Linked DNA regions of Homo sapiens. The protein of the gene in region 1 interacts with the protein of each later gene in a pairwise test. Each region holds a gene or a part of one and is shown in the gene's direction. Other genes may lie near its edges. The genes, in order: CHAT, SDCCAG8, C10orf88, THAP3, BRPF3, IL37 and C22orf39.

Region 1 (3,500 bases):
TGAAGGCTGAGTGAAGGCCTGGTGCCACGGGCCACCCAACAAGTGACATGTTTGACCTGTTTACCCCACAGTTCTTTGTCTTGGATGTTGTCATTAATTTCCGCCGTCTCAGTGAGGGGGATCTGTTCACTCAGTTGAGAAAGATAGTCAAAATGGCTTCCAACGAGGACGAGCGTTTGCCTCCAATTGGCCTGCTGACGTCTGACGGGAGGAGCGAGTGGGCCGAGGCCAGGACGGTCCTCGTGAAAGGTCAGCCGCAGTGCCCAGCACATCTCCATGCCCATCTCATGCTCGTGCCCATTGGCTTTCCCTCCTCTAGGGTTGGGCCAGGGCCTCATCCCCATCAGCCATAGTGTGGGAGCTCAGGGCCCACAGCATGCCCTGCGGCCAGCCACAGTGCCTTGCCACCGAAGCCACCTTTTGTGCCCTCGTGTTCCATCTGACAGTATCTGGCTTTCTTGGTGGGACTAACTAGTGCTGGAATTGGGGATGTCTGAGAATACTGGGCGGGGCGGGGGAGTTAGCTGGAGGAAGGCTGGCTGCAAGTGAGCAGGTGTGTTTTCCTGGTGGGTGGCGCTCACTGATAGTGGCTGGGGGAGTCGCTGAATGGGGGTGTGGGATGGAGCCTGCCTCTGGGAAAGTGGTTCACCACCTCTTTCACCTGATCTCTCCATCCTGGGACTCTTCATCTTCAAGCTGTCCCTTATCTTGTGGCACTGTTCTGATGAAAGTCTCCAAGCATTCCCATAAGAAAGCCAGGAATATTCTTGAAAATTTTTCATCACCCTTCTGGAAACTACTTTCAAATCCAAAGCTGGTCCTATTCCAGGAGCTGATGGAATGCTCTCCTTCCTTGCCCATGTTAGAGACACTGGATGAGAAGCAAGACTTCTGTGAGTCTTTATTTACCCCTCAGAATTTTACTGGGTCAGGCAATCTATTCAGACTCTCCACATCTGTTACTGAGGGCCCTGGGCTTGGCTCAGGGAGTATGGGAGACAAAGGAGTTGAGGCCTCTACCCAAGAGCAGCCCCATGATGGGAACAGGAAGAGGGGGCATGGGGAGGAGACTCACATCCAGGTGCATGCAGTGCTGACCCACTTCAGACAGGCGTCAAAAACGTGCTCCAGGACTTCAGAGAGGGGACGGAGCCCTTCCGAGTGGGATTGTGAAAGGCTCTGTTAGAAGAGGTGGGAATGGAACAAAGCCCCATGGCATGAGTGAGAAAGGCTGGAGGGAAGGATGGTACCCAGGCAGGCAGACCAACCCTGGGCAAAGCCCGAGGCCCAGCAGGGACACACCCACCTTACCCCCAGGGTGAGGAGGAGAATAGCTGCCCAGCAAAGGTGGCCTGAGCCGGATGTACTGGGCCTATTTTTTCTAACAGCCACTTGCATTTTCTGGTCTCTCTCTAGAAGGGTCTTCCCCCAGATCCAGCTGGCTCCTTGCCGCACGCAGAGCTCAGCCCAGGTGTCCGGCCTCAGGCCTGCCTTGGGCATCCTTCCCGCACACTCTGTCACTGTGGCCCGTTCGCTTACCTTGACTCTGTTGCTCACTCTCTGAGGACAACTTTGCATTTGTTTGATAAATGCTGATTATCTGCCTTTCCCCCCACCTCCTACCCACTGCCTATAAGGTCAGAAGGACAGGGGCCTTGTCTGTTTGGTTTAATTTCTGAGAAACACAGTCTGGGCCCAGTTACATTTATTAAATAAAAGAGTGAAGGGTGATTAAAAATGCCAGGCCCCAGACTTATTCCCCGACTTACCAATTAATTATTCTTTCATCCAATTATTGGGCACCTCCTGAATGCTGTCATAAATAGGGGGCTGCAGGAGCCAAAGAGGGGTGTGAGAGCTGACTGCCCTCCCGGACCTAACCTCGTGCTGGAGAATTAATAACTTAGCATTCCGCAGTGAGTTAATTCCCTCGGGAGACCATGGTGTAATCAAATCCCACTCTTCTCCCCTTCAGGGACAGAGACAGGCATCAAAATAATCGCCTCTGCCTCCAGCATAGTTTCCACTTTATTAGCAGGCCAGGCCCAAGACACGCCCTTCAGGGCTGGCTGGATTGCCCCAAGGTCTGAGCACTTGGGCTGCAGATCAGAATTGATTTGTTAATGGCACTTGATCTGGCTTTCTGAATGGAAGTGCTGTTTCTGAGGGAAATGCGACAGAAAGGAGGGGACACATGCGCCTCCCCTTGGGTAATCCGATTAATCCAGTTAGCGCCAACTGTGTCATCTACACAACAGGAAACTGATCCTTCACAGATCCCCCCTCCCCAGAGCAGCCCTGCCTATGGAACAGAAACAGAGAGACCATTTACAAAATGATTTCGGTTTCCCAGTGAAAGAGTATGGCAGCTTGGGACAGGGTTGAGAGTGAAGATGGAGAGACCAGTGACGTCAAGGCCATTGAAAGCGAGAACAATTCCTGGGCTTTTTATCCGAGCCGTGAGTGGATGTTAGTGCCATTTAGTAAGATGGGAAACAGGGTCGGGGAGTGGGTACAGGATGGAGAAATCATTGCCACACATGTTGGGTTAGAGGTGCTTGGGTCATCTGGGTGGAGACGTCAAGCTTAATATATATGTTTGGAGCCCAAGGGAGAGGTCAGTACAGAGCAATAAATTTGAGGGACATCAGCGCATAAATGATCCTTAAAGTCATGGACCTGGGTGAGATAATCTAGAAACAGAAGAACAGGGAGCCTGGAGGTCAGGTAGAGAAGGATGCAAAGGGGATTGAGAAAGAGTAGCCCATGAAGTAAAGGAAAGCCAGAAGAGTCACAAAGATTCAAGACAGAGGGAACGGCCAGCCACATGGAATGCTGTGGAGAGCTGGAGGAGGAACAGGACACAGGGGACCCGGCTTGGCAACCCTGAAGTTGTCACTGGGCTTACTGAGGGTCAGACTGGAGTAGCAGGAGAACAAATGCTTGCACACTGACAGAAGTGATCCAACAGCAGAAAGAAATTGTCGATGAGGCAGTCAGTGAGTTGAACCAGTGAGTATGGTCGACTTTTTCTCAGACATTTTGACACTAAAAGGAGCAGAAAAATGAGGGAGTTGCTAAAAGAGGATGAGGGTCAAGGGAGGTGTTTTTAGGAGGAGAGACAAATGTATGGAAGGAATTTAGTAAAAGAAATTGATGAAGAGATAGGAGATGAATGGAGGGGTGGAATTCTTGCAAAGGCAAAAGGAGATAGAACTCAGAAAATAAGAGGCCTTTGGTTGGTACAGGGTGAAGTGGAAAGCTTGGGCCTGAGGCAGCAGAGGTAGGAGCATGCAGAGGCTCCCAACTGGTACCTCCTGGTCTCAGATCACAACCTTGAGATAAGAGGCGGGCAGTTGGATGTTGAAGATGAAATCGACTGTGTGAAATAGCCTCCTGGAAAGTGGGAAAGAAGACTTGAAAAACTTGATAAGATTTATGGACTGTGTTGAGCTCATATATGAAGGTTCAAAGTGATACATTTTAGGAGAGGCTAATTA
Region 2 (3,500 bases), on another chromosome or scaffold:
TAATGTATAGTTTCCCAAATAGAGGGAAATTTGGGGAAGGATTCGAGAAACATCAGTTGATGTGTAACTCAACATTTGTTGGTAGAAGTCTTTTAAATTGTTTTATTTTATAAAAAGGACTTCAATTATGACAGTAGTTCTTTTCTATAGTCAATTTATTTTTTATTTTTATTTATCTATTTTGAGACAGAATCTCACTCTATCACTCAGGCTGGAGTTCAGTGGCACAATCTCTGCTCGCTGCATCCTCTACCTCTCAGGTTGAAGTGATTCTGATGCCTCAGCCTCCCAAGTAGCTGGGATTACAGGCATGCACCACCACGCCCAGCTAATTTGTGTATTTTTAGTAGAGATGGGGTTTTGCCTTGTTGGCCATGCTGATCTCTAACTCCTGGCCTTAAGTGATCTGCCCACCTTGGCCTCCCAAAGTGCTGGGATTACAGATGTGAGCCACCGTGCCTGACCTATAGTCAATTTAGAATATCAGTAATTAGGCAGCTTATTCTAAAGAATGATGGTGAGATTGACAACCCCTTTACATTGGGGAACTGTAAGTACCAGTTTGTGATGGGTAGTTTCAGTTGTGACTGTTATCTTGGTATAATTATTAATAGTGCCCCTTTCACTTTCAGATGGGTATTGGTGTTGGAGAATGCATTTATGTCACCCAATTGTTAGGGGTTGCAGAGCCCCAGATTTCTATCTCTGGCTCCTGCCCCGGCAGGGGGTCTGACTTGGGGATGGTCTGACAGGGCTTTTTGTTTTTTTAGCTGACTCCTTTAGCAGCACGGTCTCCAGCTGGCAGAGCCATTAGAACCATTCTCTTCTAAGCACCTTTTTCTAACACGTCTGAAAAGTTTTTGCCTCCTCTCGTAAGACTTAAGCAGATTCTCCAGCTACACGTTAAGATAGCAGCCTTCCTTTCCCCTATGACAAGAGTATAACAACATCCAATCATGAAATATTCACCACCCACTTCCTGTGTGCCAAGCACTGAGGCTGGGCTGAGGGTATAGAGAGATAAAGATGACAAACGAAGCAGACATGTTAAACAATAACTAAAGTGTGATAAATACTATCTTTGTACGATGTACACAACATATATTGAGGTCATTGAGGGAAGAATAGTTAATTCAGGAGAGAGGAAGGAGAGGGGAAGAATTTTGAGTTAGGCCTGAAGCGGGTAGTTGTATGTATACATCTTACAGGGGGATTGAGTGGGCAGGTGGAGGGGCTTTCCAGGAAGAGGAAGAGACATGTGCAGTGATCCATGGCCAGAAAATACATGGTGTGACTGGGGAGGCAAAAAGTAGCCTAGTCTGACTATCCATTTGTTGTATATACTGGTTTGGAACCGAGTGCGACGCAAGACCTTGGACCACATCCCGGGGGGAGGTGTTGTTATTAGAAGTACCAGACAGGACCTTATTTCACATTTAGCATGGACCCCCGATGATTCCATTTGAGTGAGGTGTGGGTGTATTTTCATTCCAGAATTTTATACTACAACATGACCACATGCATTGACCAATTTTAATACAGGCTTTCCTTATGTTGCTTTATAATTAGAAGCCAGTGAATTGAAGTTCCACAGCGGTACATAGACTAGTAGTGATAGCTTTATGGAATTGTTTATTTTTAGTTTGGCAAAGGCTAAGCAGTAAATATCTCAATTAGTAAACTAAAGCAGCATGGATGAGAAATGCCCGCAAGGAGATCAGGAGTTAGAAATAACTAAGTCAGTTAATTGAAGGAAACCCTAATATCACTTACCCATATTTAGAGTTTGAAGAACCATTCTAATATGTGTGTGTGTGTGTGTGTGTGTGTGTGTGCACATGTACATGCACACACACACTGTCAGTATCCACAGTGCTGCCAGCATTGAGGTCCTTTGCATTCCCCAGGTTCTAATTGTTTAGGAAGTTTCTCTCTTTGGAGCCACTGTGCTTGGTTATTGACCCAGTGGGATAGGTCAGTGTCCTATCACAGTACGATGGGTTGTTGTCTGACTACAGAAGCTTTTCATCCTGCAATTTCTTTCAATGTGACCCACGAGGGATTTTATTATGAAGTGCTGGGGGAAGTTATTCGTATTCATATTTGTATTCATATTCACATTATATGGCCTGATGTGTGAAGATATTTAGTGAAAACATGAATGTGGCACTGCAGAATCATTTACTCGCCTCTAGATAGAGGCTCCTGCATTATATTTAAGATTCCATTTTAAGTTTAGAGTGAAAACAGAGGTGGTCTACAAAGCTTAGTTTTAAGAATTTAAGTTTTGTTCCTAGAGTTCCAGTATCTCTGGGAAAGATTGACCACTCAGAAGATGAAACATTCATTGATAGTGTAAAACATTAAGAATATTAGAGAAAAAAGTTTTGTGTTTTAAAGTTACAAAATACCATTATTTAGTTGTTATGATGTTTTGACACTGCACACTTTAGTCCATTTGGATTCATGGCACGTATTTAACACTGTATGGAAGGTTGTTTGGATCTTCCCCCTAAAGTGGGGGAGGGTCATTAGAAAGGTCCTTGTCTTCTTATGCTTAACAATTTACTACGTATCAGCTCTCTCTGGTCTATAGGGGACATGATGGGGGTTTGTGCATCTGCAGATTAAATTTCTGTATGTCTCCTCTCTGTTTTGCAGACAGGAAAAAGATAGCATTCAGCAGAGCTTTAGCAAGGAAGCAAAGGCCCAAGCCCTTCAGGCCCAGCAAAGAGAGCAGGAGCTGACACAGAAGATACAGCAAATGGAGGCCCAGCATGACAAAACTGGTAGGTGGTAGGGAAAGATTAGAGCCTGGGCACTAGCTCACAAGTCAGGCCCACGCCTTACTGTGAAATGACATCAGGAACACCTGTAACCTTTGGCTGGCCGAAGGGAGCAGATGCTAACTACACCGGAGATTCCGAATTACATATTAGTTAGCGTTTAAAAGAGAAAATGGAAAGTATTGCCCACTGTCTGTTGATTTCAGAGTGCTGCTCTCACATCTGTTGCACCATCTGGATTATGAGTTTATTTACCTGTGTTCAAGAAACGTAAAGCTGAGAGAGACCACAACAAAGTAGAAAAACAAAGGGCTTGTTTTTGGCTGGGTTTTCAGGCACACATGTTATATAAAGAAAATAGCATCAGAAGCTCTGCGGGAAATGCTCTGAGCTTACAGTTAGAGTCTCCTGAATAGCATTGAACAGTTCCCACAGTACACACATTATAGCTACTCTAAAAGCCTAATGAGTTTGCTTCAGCATCCAAACTGGAGAAAAGCTTTAGCCATTAATCGGTTCTTAATTCACTGTCGCAGCTGGATGTAATTCAGTGGCTCCAAATTGATATGTTCCTTTATTTAATCTTTGCAGCTTCGAACATTTTTAGCATTTGTATGATTTCCCCACCTCCCCCAACCCAATCTAGAGTGATGTTTAATCCTTTGCATTCTTCAAGTTCTCACAACTGCTGTTAAAATTCACTAATACAAGGCA
Region 3 (3,500 bases), about 73 Mb from region 1:
AAGGAATTTAATTTTGGGAACATTGACTTTTAGCTGTGAATAAGACATTCCCTGGAAGGATGTTGCAAACATCTGGAAACAGAGGATTAGGAGAAATGGAATGAACCTTCAGTGGCTGGAAGGGAAGTTTAGGGGTGTACCCACAGTAGCTGACGGAGGGTGGTGAAGGGAGAGGAAAAAGGAACCAGAAACATAGAAGGCAGCAGTGTGATAGAGTAGCAAGAGAAACGATTTGATGTCAGGTAAAGTGACTTCAAACTCTTGTCCTGCCTCTTCTTAGTTCTGCATCCTATGGCAAGTTAATTAATATTTTTTTCAATATGAATTCCTCATGTACAAAATCTAAATGATAACACTGTAAGGATCACAGAATTGATGTGAAAATTTAAAATAAGTAATGCAAGTAAAGAACTCCTTGTAGATGTTGTGTGGTTCACAAATATTAATGTAGTACCAGTATTATAATATGGGCTGAGTTAAGAGAACCAGGAGAGCTGAAGATTATGGAAACCACAGAAAGAAGAATTTCAAAAAAGATGGAAATGTATACTTTTCTTCCTCCCACACCATGTTCTCACCTGGATACCTCAGGAGATTCCTAACTGGCCCACCTGTCCTGCTACAATCTGTTTTCCACAATGTACCGAGAATGACCTCAAAGGATAATTGGATCTCATCCTTCTCCTGTGCAAAGCCCCCTGACTGCTTGCCTCCCTTTGTACTTAGAATTAATCCTGATTCCTTACCTTAATCTCTAAAATGTAGGCCCTGCTTGCCTTCTCAACCTCATCTCCTGCCATGTTTCCTTGGGCAGCTTGCTCCAGACATTCTGATATGTGTATTCCGTAAATATCTAGATATGTTCCCACCTCCAGACCTTTGCACTCATAACTGTTCTCTGTGGCCAGAACTCCCTCCCTGTGATACTTCTGTATCTGCATTTTTCTTATTCAGATCTCATTTTAATGTTACATCTTTAATGACACCTTTCTTAGCCAACCAGTGTAAAGTAGCATGTACCTCCAAATCCGTATCAGTTTCATCAGTGCCCTTTTGACCACTTTGTTGTTGTTTTTGTATTGGTTGCATGTTTATCTCACTAAAAGACAAGCTTCATGTAAACAAGACTTATCTGTCTTGTTTATGGCTCCAAGTATTATACACAGTCATGCATCAATTCACAGTGGGGATATGTTCTGAGAACAAAGGTGATTAGGGGATTTCATGGTTATGAAACCATCATGGTATGTACTTGCAGAATCCTAGATCATATAGCCTACTACGTACCTAGGTTACGAACCTGTATAGCATGTTACTTTACAGAATACTCTAGGCAGTTATAATGGTAAGGATTTGTGTATCTAAACATAGAAGAGGTACTGTAAAAATATAGTATACAAGATGAAAAATGGCACGCCTGTATAGGGCACTTACCATGAACTGAACTTGCAGGACTAGAAGTTACTCTAGGTAAGTCAGTAACTGAATATGAAGGCCTAGAACATTACTGTACACTACTGTAGACTTTATAAACACTGCACATTTAGGCTATGCTAAATTTCTTTAAACATTTTTTATTTTTCAATAATAAATTAAGCTTAGCTTATTGTAACTTTTTTTTTTTTATTTTTTGCGACAGAGTCTTCCTCTGTCATCTGGGCTGGAGTGCAGTGGTATGATCTCAGCTCACTGCAACCTCTGCCTCCTGGGTTCAAGCAATTCTCCTACCTCAGGCCCCTGAGTAGCTGGATTACAGGCGCATGCCACCACACCAGACTAATTTTTTTATTTTTAGTAGATACGGTGTTTCACCATGTTGGCCAGGCTGGTCTCGAACTCCAGGTTCTCAGGTGATCACCTGCCTTGGCCTCCCAAAGTACTGGGTGGGATTACAGGCGTGAACCACCATGCCCAGCCTATCGTAACTTTTTAACTTTATATACTTAAATTTTAAAAAACTTTTTGACTCTTTTGTAGTAAAGAGCTTAAAACACAAACTCATTGTATAGCTGTACAAATATATTTGGTTTCTTTATATCCTTTTTCTATTAAGCTTTTTTTGTATTTAATTTTTTTTTAAGTTTTAAACTTTTTTGCTTAAAACAAAGACACAAACATACACATTACCCTAGGCCTACAGAGGGTCAGGATCATAAGTATCACTGTCTCCCACCTCCATATCTTGTCCCACTGGAAGGTCTTCAGGGACAGTAATACCCATGGAGCTGTCATCTTGTATAATAATAATGCCTTCTTCTGGAAGACCTCCTGAAGGACCTGCCTGAGGTGGTTTTACAGTTAACTTTTAAAACATATAAGCAGAAGGAATATACTTTAAGACTAAAAATATGGTATAGTAAATACATAAACCAGCAACATAGTCATTGATTATTATTACTAAGTAGTATACAGTATACATAATTGTACATGCTATACTTTTATATGACTGGCAGTGTGCAATCGGTTGGTTTACACCAACATTGCCACAAACATGTGAGTAATGTGTTACTATGATACCACTTGGGGACTGGAATTTTTTAGCTCCATTGTAATCTTATGGGACCACTGTCATATGTGGGTCCATTGTGGACCAAAACATTGTAATGTGACACATACATATATCTATCTATACATACATATATATATACGTATATATACATGCATATATCTATATACATATATATATACACATATATACACGCATATATCTATATACATATATATATATACACATATATATACACACACACCTATTGGATTGATCAGCTATTTCTTGGAGATCCTCAGGGAGTAAGTTTGAATAGTGATGAGATGTAAACCAAATTGTGAGGGATTAGGTAGTAACTGGGTATTTGGGATGTGGAGTTACTAAGTGCACACAGGTTTTTTTTTTTCAAGTTTAGAGATAAAGAGGAAATTAGATACTTGTGTAAAGGAATATTGAAGATAAATAAGGAATTTGAAAAGCTTGTGAGATTTGAGCTTTATTAAGAATTTATTTAGGGCAGTGTATTTTTTCAAGTACACTCCATTGAACACCTGTGTCAGAATCCTTTGGAAGGTCTTCAAAATGCAGATTCCTGGCCCTCACTATCTACTCAATCCCAGAGGGTGGGGTCCAGGAATCAGTGTTTTAAACAGTCATGTCTAAGTGAGTTTTATGTACATTGTGATTTGATAATAACTCTTTTTTTTAATTATTATTATACTTTAAGTTTTAGGGTACATGTGCACAATGTGCAGGTTTGTTACATATGTATACATGTGCCATGCTGGTGCGCTGCACCCACTAACTCGTTATCTAGCATTAGGTATATCTCCCAATGCTATCCCTCCCCCCTCCCCCCACCCCACAACAGTCCCCAGAGTGTGATGTTCCCCTTCCTGTGTCCATGTGTTCTCATTGTTCAATTCCCACCTATGAGTGAGAATATGCGGTGTTTGGTTTTTTGTTCTTGTGAGAGTTTACTGAGAATGATGGTTTCCAATTTCATCCATGT
Region 4 (3,097 bases), on another chromosome or scaffold:
TCTCACCTCTGTCTAGAGCCTCCAGGGACTCCCCAGCTGCTCAGGGCCCTGCGTCATGCAGTCCCCACTCCCTCTCGCTGTCTCAGCTGGACCTGCGTGAGTGGCCGTTCCTGCTGTCCCTTCTGAAGCCTGCGTCGCTTGTGCTGCCACTTCCTGCGGTCTGTGCTCAAACATCACCCCTTCAGCTGCCTCTCCTCACCACCCCAGGGCTTCCCTCTGTCTGTTCTCTGGAGCAGCTGTCATCCCCAGAAGACACCGTCCACATCTGTGTGGCTCATCACTGTGCCCCCGCTCCAGAATATCAGCTCTTGGGGGCCAGGACTGTCTCATTACCCCCCATCCCTAGCACGAAGAACAGGGCCCGGCTCCTGGTAGGCTCCTGGCAAATGTAGCATCGGAAGCAGCTCACTTGGGCTCTCTGGCCATGCTCGTGGTCTCGGGTTTCCTATTAAGAGTGCTTTAACAGCTGTGACAGAAGCTTCCAGAAATTAGATGTGATTTAATAAACCGAGAGGACTGAATGTCCACAGCTGTCCAGGGAAGTACTCTGTAGTGATGTGAAAATTCCGAATGACTCTGAGGCGCTGGGTCCAGCCTTGCTGGGCCTCACACCCCGTGCCTCTGCCCTTAGGTTTCCGTTCAGCCGCCCGGAGCTGCTGAAGGAATGGGTGCTGAACATCGGCCGGGGCAACTTCAAGCCCAAGCAGCACACGGTCATCTGCTCCGAGCACTTCCGGCCAGAGTGCTTCAGCGCCTTTGGAAACCGCAAGAACCTAAAGCACAATGCCGTGCCCACGGTGTTCGCCTTTCAGGACCCCACACAGGTAGGAGGGCACTGCACCTTCCGTCTGGTCACATCCAGCCTGCGTTGTTTACCAGCAGCTGGGGGCAGTGGGGGTGGCGGCATGTGTGGGAAAAGCCAAGGCCAAGAACTCCAGTGACAACAGCACTGTCACGCCTCTGGGGTCCACAGCCCTGTGGCCCTGCTGGCCATGACCTCGGCTTTAAGAGAAGTCATAAATTAAAGGCATTTTAAAAATGAATTATTCTATGGCTGGGTGCGGTGGCTCACGTCTGTAATCCCAGCACTTTGGGAGGCAGAGGTGGGTGGATCACCTGAGGTCAGGAATTCGATACCAGCCCAGCCAACATGTTGAAACCCCATTTCTACTAAAAATACAAAAATCAGCTGGGTGTGTTGGTGGGCACCTGTAATCCCAGCTACTTGGGAGGCTGAAGCAGGAGAATCTCTTGAACCGGGAGGCAGAGGTTGCAGTGAGCCAAGCTTGCCTTGGTGGAGGTGGGATGTGTGGGCCTGGCTCAGGAGAGGGCTCACAAAGAGTTGGATGCTGAAGCCTTGAGATCGCATGATAGGCCACAGGGGCACCCACGTGGAGTGGGCAGGCAGGGCAGTGGCGGGACAAGCCACAGGCCAGCAGCTCCCTGCATTGGTGGATTTATGGGGAGAGGAAAGGGATCCGTGAGTGGAGAGTGGAGCCGATGGGAAGAACAAAGCGGCCACGTAGCAAACACGCCCAGAGCGGCCGCCTGGGAGCCCCTGCCCCATCTGTCCTCCCCAGCACCCTTCCCAGATAGCCTCATGCAGTCTGCCTGAACCTCTTCAGGTTGGCAGTCCCTTCCTTCAGGAAGCCCTTCTGGACCCTCAAACCCCCTCTTGCCTCCGACCCCTTCCTGCCCCTCAGTCTTCCTGGCCCCTGTGGCCCCTGCTGTCCTTCCTGTTTCCCTCATTGGTTTTGTCTTCTCCCCTGGAACAGAATCTCCATGAGGGCAGGGGCTGCCTTCCCTGCTTCAGGCCCCACACCCAGGACGCTGCCTGGCACAGCCCAGGTGCTCGGGGTATGTGTCCATAGATGAACACTTTAATCACCTTCACGTATTTGTGATAACGTTTGTCCTGGAAAGATGACACTTGAGCCACTGGGAGTGGGGACGTTTGTCACTGTAGCCCTCGGTGCTTCCAGTGCCTGGTTGGTGGGGAGAAGCTGGGTACGGCCTCTGCCAGCTCTGCTTTGTGGGCCCCACCCCAGTGTGGCCCAGGGGCTGCAGGTTCTGGGTCAGTGGCACCTCGAGTGGTGAGCTGCGCTTCTGCTGCTTGCTGGCGGTCATGGGGCCAGGTGCCAGGCCCTGGGGTGACACATAGGAAGTAGATGGGTCCCTAGCTCTACAGGGACCTATTCAGGGCACTCTGACCATGATTTGAGGACATCTTTGGAGAAAGAGAAGCGCACCAAGCGGGCAGTGTGAGTTGGGCTGAGCTTCAGGTCAGTTTCATTTAGCAGCTGTTCGTTGACTGGGGCATGCAGTGGGCCGAGCAGCGGGGACAAGCATGATGCCCGAGGCCTGCCCCGAGCTCTGAGGGTTCTTGGGGTCTGCATCCACTCTGTGTGTGTCTCTTGTAGCAGGTGAGGGAGAACACAGACCCTGCCAGTGAGAGAGGAAATGCCAGCTCTTCTCAGAAAGAAAAGGTGAGTGCACCGGGCCAGGTACTTGAATGTTTAAATTATGCTGTGGGTTGAGACAGGGAGGTGGGATTTTCCCAGCAAGGCCGGCCCGCAGGGCTGTCGCCTTTCCTCATATGCCAGTTTGGATTCCCGGTTTTTCTGGAGGGAAGGCCCAAGCCTCTCAGCTTCCTTCTTTTCAATATCAAAGAATCTCAGTTGCTAGTAGGGATCGTGCCTGATTCCCTTTTTCTTTTCTTTTTTTTGAGACTGAGTCTCGCTCTGTCACCCAGTCTGGAGTGCAGTGGCATGATCTCGGCGCACTGCAACCTCTTCCAGGTTCAAGTGATTCTCTTGCCTCAGCCTCCCGAGTAGCTGGGATTACAGATGCCCGCTACCACGCCCGGCTAATTTTTGTGTTTTGAAATAGAGACGGGGTTTTACCACGTTGGCCAGGCTGGTCTCGAACTCCTGACCTCAGGTGATCCACCCACCTCTGCCTCACAAAGTGCTGGGATTATAGGTGTGAGCCACCGCGCCTGGGCCCCCACTTTTTTTTTTTTGTAGAGATAGCATCTTGCTATTTTACTCAGGCTGGTCTCAAACTACCGGGCTCAAGCCATCCTCCCACCTCAGTC
Region 5 (3,500 bases), on another chromosome or scaffold:
AAAAGGAACCTGTGTTTCAGAGCCCAGCCTAGAACCCCAGGTTCTGACTCTCCCTCCCAGGAAGTTCCGGGCTGCTTTAGTTCCGCTGAAGAGTGCCCCCATCCTCACTTTGGATTAGCCCTGTGAGATATCTCAGGGTGTGGTTGACAAAGGGCCCTTATCCATCTCTAGTCTCTCTTGACACCACCCCCAAAGAATCAAACTAGCTGTTGCCAGCTGTGTGATGCATAGGTTATGTGAGTCTTTATCTGAAGAGGCAAGGTGGTTGGGCTCCTGAAAAAGGCAGAGAAGGCTACCTGATAATCGAGGTTTGAAATTAGAAGCAGATCCAAGGACTTGTGAGCCAGCCAGGGTAGGAGAAGTCTTAGTATCTCCCTGTGTAGCCAAATGACAGTAGCTGAGTGAGCTGTGTGCTATGGTTTCCTTAAACAAAAAGCAGAAGGATGGGAAGGAAATTGCAGTGTCTGCTCCTTGCCCTAGCCAGCAATATTTCCCCCCAAACTTTTATCTTGATCAGATCTTCTCTATCACCCAAGACCCATTTCTCACAGGGAAAGGAATAGCCATCCTCTCCACTCGTCACTGAGCCCTCCTGAGGTGGCTGCCTCACCCTGTAGCATGTGTTGGGAAGGGGGATTTCTGCACTCAGACTCACTGTGTGTGTCCTTGGCAGGCATGACCAACGGCTTTGGAAAACACACCGAAAGCGGGTCTGACTCTGAATGTAGTTTGGGTCTCAGTGGTGGACTGGCATTTGAAGCTTGCAGGTAAGAACACATTCCCAAAGCTTTGTCAGCAGCTCTGCTACCCCTCCTTTTACTCTCCATTCAGCTACAGATTGAACCTCTTCCTGCTTACCTTTTTCTCTCTTCCCCCACTCCTGCTATTTCCTGAGGCCTCTTATCTGTAACTCTGGGAGTTCCTAGGAAACAGGGTGACCCTTGACTCTCAGATCTGATCTGAGAGAGGAAGAGTAGTGCTGATGCTTACAGGGTTTGTGGGGCTGAATTTGGACTCTAGAGGATAAGAAAAGCTAAATCTCCTGTTGTTCAGTGAAATTAACATTTGAGCCAAAGTCCCCTGCTGCCCCTACACACATTTAGACAACCCAGCCATTACAGAGTTGGTTTTGCTCTTTGCCTTTTGGGGCGTCATAGCCTCTTTATAGAGGTGTGGTGTAGGTGTATGAAATGACCAAGTAGGAAATTTGGAATTGCCTTTTTTTTTTTTTTTTTGAGACGGAGTCTTGCTTGCTGCCCAGGCTGGAGTGCAGTGGCCCGATCTCGGCTCACTGCAACCTCCGCCTCCTGGGTTCAAGTGATTCTCCTGCCTCTGCCTCTTGAGTAGCTGGGAGTATAGGCACGTGCCACCACGCCTAGCTAATTTTTGTATTTTAGTAGAGATGAGGTTTCACCATGTTGGCCAGACTGGTCTTGAACTCCTGACCTCAAGTGATCTGCCCGCCGCAGCATCCCAAAGTGCTGGAATTACAGGCGTGAGCCACTGCGCCTGGCCTGGAATTGCCTTTTATTCAGACAAAGGCCCCAAAGCTCTTCTGCTGTCCTTGAGCTGAAAAGAGATGGATTTCTTCCCATTCTTTTATCTGAAGGGAGGATTTCTCAGACCAGACCTTAAAGTTTCTTCCAGGCACAAGAGCTTATGGAGCCCCTGCTCTGTGTTCTGTGTTCTGCAAGACACCAGGGCGGGGAGGACTCTTAGAAATGAGAAACCCTCACTGCCACAAAGGAAAAGTGACTTGTCCTGAAGGCTAATGTCATGGCCCCACCCATGACTGCTGAATGGGTCTTAGGTTCAGAGTAGGGGAGGAAAGGTCCCAGGGCAGCACCAGAAGACTATTTGTGTTTGAAGTGCTTCCAAGGCAGACTGGGCATGTGTTCTTTTAGGCATTCAGTCTACCTGGGCTGTAGGACTACTGGTAGGGCTGAGGGGGTCCCCAGCTACTCGTTGGCCTGGACTGGTTCCCTGCTGTGGTTTCTCTGAGATTCCCCTACCCCCCGCCAACCCTCAGAGTTGCCCTAGCTTCCTATTGCAGCCTCCAGAGATATAGGGGAAGTAGATGGGAAAAAATTATCAGGCACAGGAAAGAGAAAGATTTCAGAATCTTACACGATGCTTCTAGCCTGGCCCTGGGTTGAAGTTCCTGACTCCCTTCAAAGATAAGGTACCTGGAAGCCCACTTTGTTGGGGTCAGGGTAGGATTGGACCCATCAAACTATCCTTTTCTTGCTCTTGACTAAAAGTGAAAGGTGTGTTGTTGGCCCCTTCTTCTATGAAGGGCATTCTTTTCAGCTATGAGCCACAAGAGCAAGCAAGGCCAGGCTCTGGTTAGCCTGCTAATTCAGGTGGCGTGTTTGCCTTTCTGCAGAACTCCAGTGCAATGCCCTTGATTTATCTGGGGCCCCTTGGAGGAAGTATGTATTAATATTTCAGGGTTTAAAATAGGAGATCCAAAGGCTTCAACTGCAAGGGTTGTTTTTCTTTTTCCCCCCATACTGTGGTAATAAGTATATAAGGGAAGACCTTATTTATTAGACCAGAATCATATAATCCCAGAATTAGAAATAACCTTGAAAGAACTGGTCACTAACCCATCCCCCACACTCCCTTTTTCACTTACCCCTTGGTTTATCTTTTCTGATGATTTTCTGAGCAGGTTGGTGCTACATGTGCTTTCTATAGATCACTCATTCAAATATTGATAACTGAACACCTACTGTATGCCAGGTACTGTTCTAAGCACTAAGGTGCCTGTTCTCATGAAGATTATCTTCTAAGGTGTCTGTTCTCATGGATATGGATGTTAAACCAGTAAATAAGATAACTGTAGGTTGGGTTGTCTGCTTAGGCTGGGGTAACTTGGAGAAAGGGCTGAAATGCAGGCCATGATTGAGTCAGTTGTGCTTTTTTCTACAAATCAGGAACATACAGACCTATTTTTGGTGTTGCATCCTATTTTATTGAGCTCATCCTTCTCAGAGCTCATCATTCTATAGTACAGTATTAGCAGTTTGTAATACTTTAAGTAAGACATTAAAATTTACTATCCTTCGTATGACAATAACTACAGCTGTGTTTATTGACTGCATGGTATGTGCTGTACTGAGAGTTTTATGTGTGTTCGTTCATTAATCCTTACAACAACACATGGGGAGTGTAAGCCTCGGAGAAGTTAAGTAACTTGCTGAAGGTTACAGAACTGATAACAAGAGCTGGGTTTTGAACCCAGATAGGCTCCAAGAGTTTAATTTCTTAACTACTTTGCTGTGCTGTCTTCTGTTGTATTTGAAGATGTCTCCCCAGATTCTTGATGTGAACTTTGATTTGTTTTTCTTTTTCTCATCTTGACGTGAACTTTGAGAGGCTTTCCTGATAAAATTACTAGCACTTTACATTTGTACAAGGCCTCAATTTCTCTAATATGTTGGCAGATTTTTATAGGGTAAATGGGAACTAAATCCTAAATGTAAACTGGGTATTTT
Region 6 (4,057 bases), on another chromosome or scaffold:
CAGGGATTTGTATTCTAGCCATCAAGGGAATAACATTTTTCCAGGTCTTTAGACAAATAATGGAATACCTTGCAGTAATTAGATACACTATTGTAGAAAAGTATTGATGAAATGGAACGATGTTTGAGATATCATATTGAGTAGAAAAGGCAAGATACATTAAGTAGGAAATGTATCTTACAAAATAATTTGTCAGACACACTCCTATATTTGTATGTTATATAAATGCGTATGTGAAGAAAGGCTAGAGGATGAGACCACAGTCTTCGGTGAAGTTTAAGAGATGAGGCTGCAGCATGCTCAGAAAGGCCTGGGTTATAGTTCTTCCAGTAATTAAGGATGTGATCTTGGGTAAATTGTCCATCCTCTCTAAACTGCACCACCTTTTGTCTGTAAAACAGGAAGGATGGTATTTACCCCCAGGGTCATCAAAGGATTTGGTTGGAGAAAAATAAATAAATGGGCTGAGCCCAGACCTGGCACAGTGAGAGCACAGTGGTTGACTATTGTGCTGGCCTGTTGTTCCTGTGTTATTGACATGCTGCTGGTGGTGGTCCAGAAGCTATTACCTTAATTGGTTATGTGGATTTCCCCTCATACTGAGCAGCTGTGTGTGGTGTTGTAAAACATAGCCATACACAGTAACTGACAAGGGCAAATGTGATGGAAAAATGCAAGGAAGTGCAGATAAATAGCTAATGGGCTGTAGAAGGAAGCTAGTCCTTGGAGGGCTTGATCAAGGAAGGTCCTTTTGCATGTCACCTTTGAAGAAGAGGGGACATAGAAGAGGTATAGTGCATCCCGGAGTGTACCTGGAAGGGAACATGAAAAGAGGACATTTTTCTCTGGGACATGGGGACTCCACTTGCATGAACTCTGGAATTGGGGCAAAGAACCATCATGAGAACAAGGGCTTCCTTGAACCTCCCAGGCTCATTGGCTGATCTAAACCCTGTGTCCCCTCTTTCCTTCACTCTCCTCTGTTTTCTATACCTGTATTATTGGACTGGACTGGAAGCCACCTGATCTATCACAAGTACCTTGAAATGTGTTGAATAGGTGTGGCACAGTCCTTAGCAGAGTGGCACTACCCCCACAGGAATTTGTTTATACCGTTGGCATGGAAAATAGCAGGAAATGAGTGATCACTGATAACTGAGGATGCTATTTATTATTGGCCAAAGGAATACTTGTGTTGTATTTGCATAACCACTCACAAACTGTTGATTACAAATGAGTACCAGACCTAGCTCCTTCAAGTAAAGGATCCTGAGAACTGAAGGCAAACAGAGCTCCAGGAGTCCAAGACAGAGCCACAGACCACGAGGATCCCTGGCCCAGGTAGGTGGTCCTCCTGCACTGGCTTTCAAGGCCAACAGGATGGATGGGGAAGTAGAGTAGCATCTGGCCATCTAGACCCTTGCTTTTTATCCCCACTGGAAGCACATCTGAATTTCTAAATATGATCTCTGAGACCTGCCCAGAACACCTTGCTCTCAGCCCCAGTAGCAGCCTGCTCTCTCCCAGGAGGGCTTCCACTAACAAGTAGGGCATTGCTGGAGGGCCAGGCAGACACTAGCTTAGGAAATCCACCAACCCTGGAAATGCTAGTCCCTTCTCTGAAGGCTCAGAAGACTGACTTTAGAGTCTAGAAAATATTGGTCCTTGGGAACAGATTTTGAGTGCAAAGAGATGGACTTCAGATGGCCAGATGCACTGCTTCTTTAGGGAATTCTGTGAAAGCTCCCTGCATTTATCTTAATACAGGCAGCAGATTTCATGAGTACCCCCGAGGGATGGCCCCAGGTCCTCCAGCCTGTGAGCATCCTTCTGTCCTTCAGCAGCACCACAGTATCTTTATATGTCTTTGGATACCTACGTTTCTGCCAGACATCTCTTGCTCTGATGTTCTGGCTGCCAAATTCTCTGTCAAGCGCCTCCAATTTTTTGTGTCCTTTGATTTACCCCAACATGACAAAGGCAGTTGTGCTTCATGTATTCAGGGATACTGCCAAACCACAAACAGGTTAAAATCAAATAGCAGATATCCCTGTTCCTAAAGACCCATCAGCTCTACCCACCTGCTCCTGCTCACCGTCCTTATTGTTGAGTCCTGAAGCCCTTCCTTGTCATTTTTATTTTTTGCATGAACAATTTAGTTCCCTTTGTCTCACTCCTAAACCTTTCTCAAAGGATTGGATTTGTACACAAACTGCCTATCTCTGCAATCTTAGAAGTGATATGATTCTGAACAAATCACTTAACTTTTGATTTTTTATCGGTAAGATGGGAATACCAATTTTTGCTCCACTTCTGTCCTATGTTGGCCTGGGCTGATGTTGAAAGCTCTCGGTCAACTGAGATAGGGTGTGCAGAATTTATATATATAAATATATCTCCTCCAACCCCTCCCAATGAAGCAAGTCACGTGAGTCAATCCTACCCTAAGATATTAGGGATTGAGCCTCCTGGGACATTTGGTGGCTTAGGTTTTCATGAAAAGAGGTTGCAGAGCAACTGCTTTTTGTTAGGCAAAGATTAGGCTACTGCAGAGACTCAGCAAACTTCTATAGAAGGTGTCAGATGGTAAGTATTTTAGGCTTTGCTTGCCAGATGATCTCTCAACTAGTTAACCATGCTATTGTAGCCTCGAAGCAGCCAGAGACAATATGTAAACAAGAGCATGGCTGTGTTTCAATAAAACTTTATTTAAAAAAACAGTCAGGGACCGGATTTGGCCAAAGGCCATAGTGTGCCAGCCCCAAGACTAGAGCAATGCACTTTTAACTTTTTTATTTTATTTTTGTAAAATGCCAAGATCCACAAAAATGCTATTGCACCCCGTGTGTTAGCACTGTGACTCAAGGTTTGGGAAATTCTGCTTTGAAGGCGTGATAGACAGGAGAGCATGGTCTGGCCCCTTGGTGCCTTTCTGGTTGCAGCGAGCATTTCAAACTACAGAGCAAGGCCAGTGGTCTGTTCAGCACTAGAGACATGCAGCAAGGTGTCCTGGGGTGAGAAGATGCCATAACTGGTCCCCTTTCTATCTCCTTAGGTCTTGGACTTCATTCCATTTTCTGTTGAGTAATAAACTCAACGTTGAAAATGTCCTTTGTGGGGGAGAACTCAGGAGTGAAAATGGGCTCTGAGGACTGGGAAAAAGATGAACCCCAGTGCTGCTTAGAAGGTAAGGTTCTTGTAGAAATCTACCTCAGGGCCAAAGTGTAATTCCTAGAGCAGAACTTTGCTAGGTGCTGTGCACAGACCCAGTTGTTTCCTGCTGACTTGCACAGTAAGTGAGCTTTCAAATTTCCCTGGACAAATAACTAGACAAGAGAAATTCTGGAAGGGAAAAGGAAGCTTTGCTTCAGTGTCCAGGCACATCAGGTAGTAGATAAAAGGATCGTCCTCACCTACAGATTTGGGGCTTTAGCATCCTGTTTGCCAACTGGATGGTTGCATATGCTTCAAAATGCACCTCTTCCCTCCCAACATTCCCAAGTGGAAGAGAAGCCTCCGATGAGAAGCAGCTCTCTAAGGCTGGGCTGAACAAATGACCCAGGCACAGGGCATCTGAGTATTCCATGAGGAACACATTTGGGTGTTGCCCATGGGGGACAATAGGAGGAGGCTTTTGACCCAAATGATTGTCTACTGAGGTGTGACGGGAGAGGCCTGTGACATGCCAGAGGCCAAACCCGTGATCCAGTTCATCTCTATTCTATGTTTCTGAAGAGGGAAGCTATGATTTAATGTCATTACTATCATGCTGCTCTAGTATTTCTCAGCACATACACAGAAGAGGGAATTAAATGGTCTTTGATACCCCTAAATCCTTGGAAAATCCGAATTGCATATGCTAACCTCACTGCGTCTGACTGCAGACCCGGCTGGAAGCCCCCTGGAACCAGGCCCAAGCCTCCCCACCATGAATTTTGTTCACACAAGTAAGGCCTCGGGGTGAGGTGATGGGGGTGGCTGAGGTGCGAGGGTGGGGATGGGGGATGGAGCCATTGGGTCCTCTTACAGGGTGGGAGAATTGTAGAATGGGGACACC
Region 7 (2,163 bases), on another chromosome or scaffold:
TGATGCCTGGGATTGCAGCAGCTGCCTTCAGGTTCCTGGGGCAGAGCTGGAGAGTGCAGCAAAAGCCAGGGCATGCCAGCCAGCACCCCAGTCCATGAGGGGCTTCCCCTCAGTGCAGCCACGCTCCCTGCCACCTGCTTGTTTAGCAAGGTATGCATTGTGCGGCTGCATGCTCTGTTAGGAAGCATTAAGTCCTGCCTCTGTAGTGTGACTATCATGTTTTGCCTCCTCCTTCACTACTCAAGTTCCACATCAACAGATAATCTCTCTGGACAGGATGTTCCTGCATTTGTTTCTATGTCAATTGCTTCACAACATCTGAGTGTCCACATGTTGGACAGGGTTTGAGGCTTATAAGACCACAGTTTTGAAACAGACAAGTTGTCTTCAAAGAGTTTCTGTTGTAGTTTGGGTAAAAGACAGACATTAAACATCAATAAATAGGAATTTAAAACGGTGGCTGGATGTGGTGGCTCACGGCTGTTATCCCAGCACTTTGGGAGGCTGAGGTGGGAGGATTGCTTGAGCCCAGGAGTTCGAGACCAGCCTGGGCAACGTAACAAGACCCCATCTCTACAAAAAATAAATGAGCTATGCATGGTGGCGTGCATTTGTAGTTCCAGCTACTTCGGAGGCTGAGATAGGAGGATTGTTTGAGCCCAGGAGTTTGAGGCTGCAGTGAGCCATGATTGTGCCCCACTGCACTTCAACCTGGGTGACAGAGCAATATCCTGTCTCAAAATAAATAAAAATAAAATGGTGGTAATTTCTGAAGCAGTTTGGTATTTTATGGTGGTGGTATGAAGAAAACAAATACTGTAATAAGAGCAATATCTTTCAAACTTTTTGGACAGGTGCTAAGTGTGGTGGCTCACACCTGTAATCTCAGCTACTTGGGAGGCTGAGGCAGAAGAATCACTTGAGGATAGGAGTTTGAGGTTGCAGTCAGCTATGATCGTGCCACTGCACTCCAGCCTGGGCAACAGAGCAAGACCCCATCTCTAAATAAATGTTTTAAAAATAAAAATAAATGTTTTGGATAAAACCCCATATTAATAATAAGTATTTTACATTATTATCTGGCATAGACTGTTATATATAGCATATTATTGTTGAAATACAAAACAATATGTATCCGTACTGTATGTGATATAGTGCCATTTTCAGTAACTGCTGTACACACAGCAACTCAGATGAAACTCAAGGAAATTCTTCAGAGCAAAAACAGCCAATCTTGAAAACATACATGTAGCAGGATTCCATTTATGTAACATTGGTGAAATAATGTAATTATAGAGATGGAAAACAGATTAAAGGTTACCAGGGGTTTAGGTTAGGGATGGTGAGGGGGTGGTTCATACGAGGGAGTCCTGTGGTGTTGAAAACCATCTGTCAGCCTGACTGGTGGTTACACAGGGCTATACATGAAGTTAAAATTGTGTAGAGTTAGGTACACAAAGGAGTACAGATGTAACTGGGGAAACTGAGTATGTTCTGTAGACTGTACCAATGTCAATTTCTGCGTCCTGATGCTGTGCTGTAGTGTATAAGGTGTTAACATTGGGGGAGGCTGGGGCAAGGGTACCCAGGACCTCCCTAGACAACCTCCTATGCAACCTCCTGTGAATCTATAATTACTTCAAAATAAAAAGTTGAAAACAAACTGTCGGCCATGACCTACCAAACTGATTTTACAACCTAACAGATGAAACCTACTGTTTAAAAAAAAACACTGCTATCAAGCACCTGTGCTGGACACTTACCTTGGGCGGGGAGGTGGGGAAGGCCTCAGTGTCTGAGCCCAGACCTGGGTGAAGAGGCTCAACTCCTGTCAGGCAGAGAAAGGGACCCACAAAGGCAAAGGGACCTGACACCATGTTTTGACCAGAGCGGGTGCTGTGAGCTGTGATCAGGAATCTGGGTATGCGATTCTCTGGGTGGCAGGTAGCCAAAGACCTGACCTGACCTGGTTCTAGAGACCTCTGGCTGCTGTGTGGAGAAGGGATGGGGTGGTTAGATCAGTTGGCCACTGCAATAGAACAGGCAAAAACTGACGATGACGTGGACCTCAGAGGCAGCAGTGGAGGTCATGAAAAGTGGTTCCATTCAGCATTTGTCTCAGGTGGGGCCAAAGGACTTAGAATCCTTAGGCAACATTTTTAT

Evidence for each region.
Region 2: the proteins of CHAT (region 1) and SDCCAG8 interact in binary tests that used the Homo sapiens proteins (3 or more experiments, as listed by UniProt).
Region 3: the proteins of CHAT (region 1) and C10orf88 interact in binary tests that used the Homo sapiens proteins (3 or more experiments, as listed by UniProt).
Region 4: the proteins of CHAT (region 1) and THAP3 interact in binary tests that used the Homo sapiens proteins (3 or more experiments, as listed by UniProt).
Region 5: the proteins of CHAT (region 1) and BRPF3 interact in binary tests that used the Homo sapiens proteins (3 or more experiments, as listed by UniProt).
Region 6: the proteins of CHAT (region 1) and IL37 interact in binary tests that used the Homo sapiens proteins (3 or more experiments, as listed by UniProt).
Region 7: the proteins of CHAT (region 1) and C22orf39 interact in binary tests that used the Homo sapiens proteins (3 or more experiments, as listed by UniProt).

What each region holds. Positions count from the first base shown.
Region 1 is NC_000010.11:49,627,537-49,631,036, forward strand, and holds part of CHAT (choline O-acetyltransferase), read left to right. Parts: intron 1-71; coding exon 72-249; intron 250-3,500. UniProt on the Homo sapiens protein: Catalyzes the reversible synthesis of acetylcholine (ACh) from acetyl CoA and choline at cholinergic synapses.
Region 2 is NC_000001.11:243,413,041-243,416,540, forward strand, and holds part of SDCCAG8 (serologically defined colon cancer antigen 8), read left to right. Parts: intron 1-2,661; coding exon 2,662-2,789; intron 2,790-3,500. UniProt on the Homo sapiens protein: Plays a role in the establishment of cell polarity and epithelial lumen formation. Also plays an essential role in ciliogenesis and subsequent Hedgehog signaling pathway that requires the presence of intact primary cilia for pathway activation.
Region 3 is NC_000010.11:122,944,228-122,947,727, reverse strand, and holds part of C10orf88 (ATPase PAAT), read left to right. Parts: intron 1-3,500. UniProt on the Homo sapiens protein: ATPase that regulates mitochondrial ABC transporters ABCB7, ABCB8/MITOSUR and ABCB10. Regulates mitochondrial ferric concentration and heme biosynthesis and plays a role in the maintenance of mitochondrial homeostasis and cell survival.
Region 4 is NC_000001.11:6,627,868-6,630,964, forward strand, and holds part of THAP3 (THAP domain-containing protein 3), read left to right. Parts: intron 1-631; coding exon 632-824; intron 825-1,775; coding exon of another isoform or gene 1,776-1,857; intron 1,858-2,420; coding exon 2,421-2,486; intron 2,487-3,097. UniProt on the Homo sapiens protein: Component of a THAP1/THAP3-HCFC1-OGT complex that is required for the regulation of the transcriptional activity of RRM1.
Region 5 is NC_000006.12:36,217,244-36,220,743, forward strand, and holds part of BRPF3 (bromodomain and PHD finger-containing protein 3), read left to right. Parts: intron 1-673; coding exon 674-767; intron 768-3,500. UniProt on the Homo sapiens protein: Scaffold subunit of various histone acetyltransferase (HAT) complexes, such as the MOZ/MORF and HBO1 complexes, which have a histone H3 acetyltransferase activity.
Region 6 is NC_000002.12:112,909,908-112,913,964, forward strand, and holds the start of IL37 (interleukin-37), read left to right. Parts: upstream 1-1,257; 5' UTR 1,258-1,341; intron 1,342-3,055; 5' UTR 3,056-3,105; coding exon 3,106-3,187; intron 3,188-3,884; coding exon 3,885-3,947; intron 3,948-4,057. UniProt on the Homo sapiens protein: Immune regulatory cytokine that acts as a suppressor of innate inflammatory and immune responses involved in curbing excessive inflammation.
Region 7 is NC_000022.11:19,440,386-19,442,548, reverse strand, and holds the end of C22orf39 (synaptic plasticity regulator PANTS), read left to right. Parts: 3' UTR 1-854; coding exon of another isoform or gene 855-905; 3' UTR 906-1,663; downstream 1,664-2,163. UniProt on the Homo sapiens protein: Negatively regulates long-term potentiation and modulates adult synaptic plasticity. Stabilizes the interaction of RTN4 isoform A/Nogo-A with its receptors, inhibiting clustering of postsynaptic AMPA receptors at synaptic sites.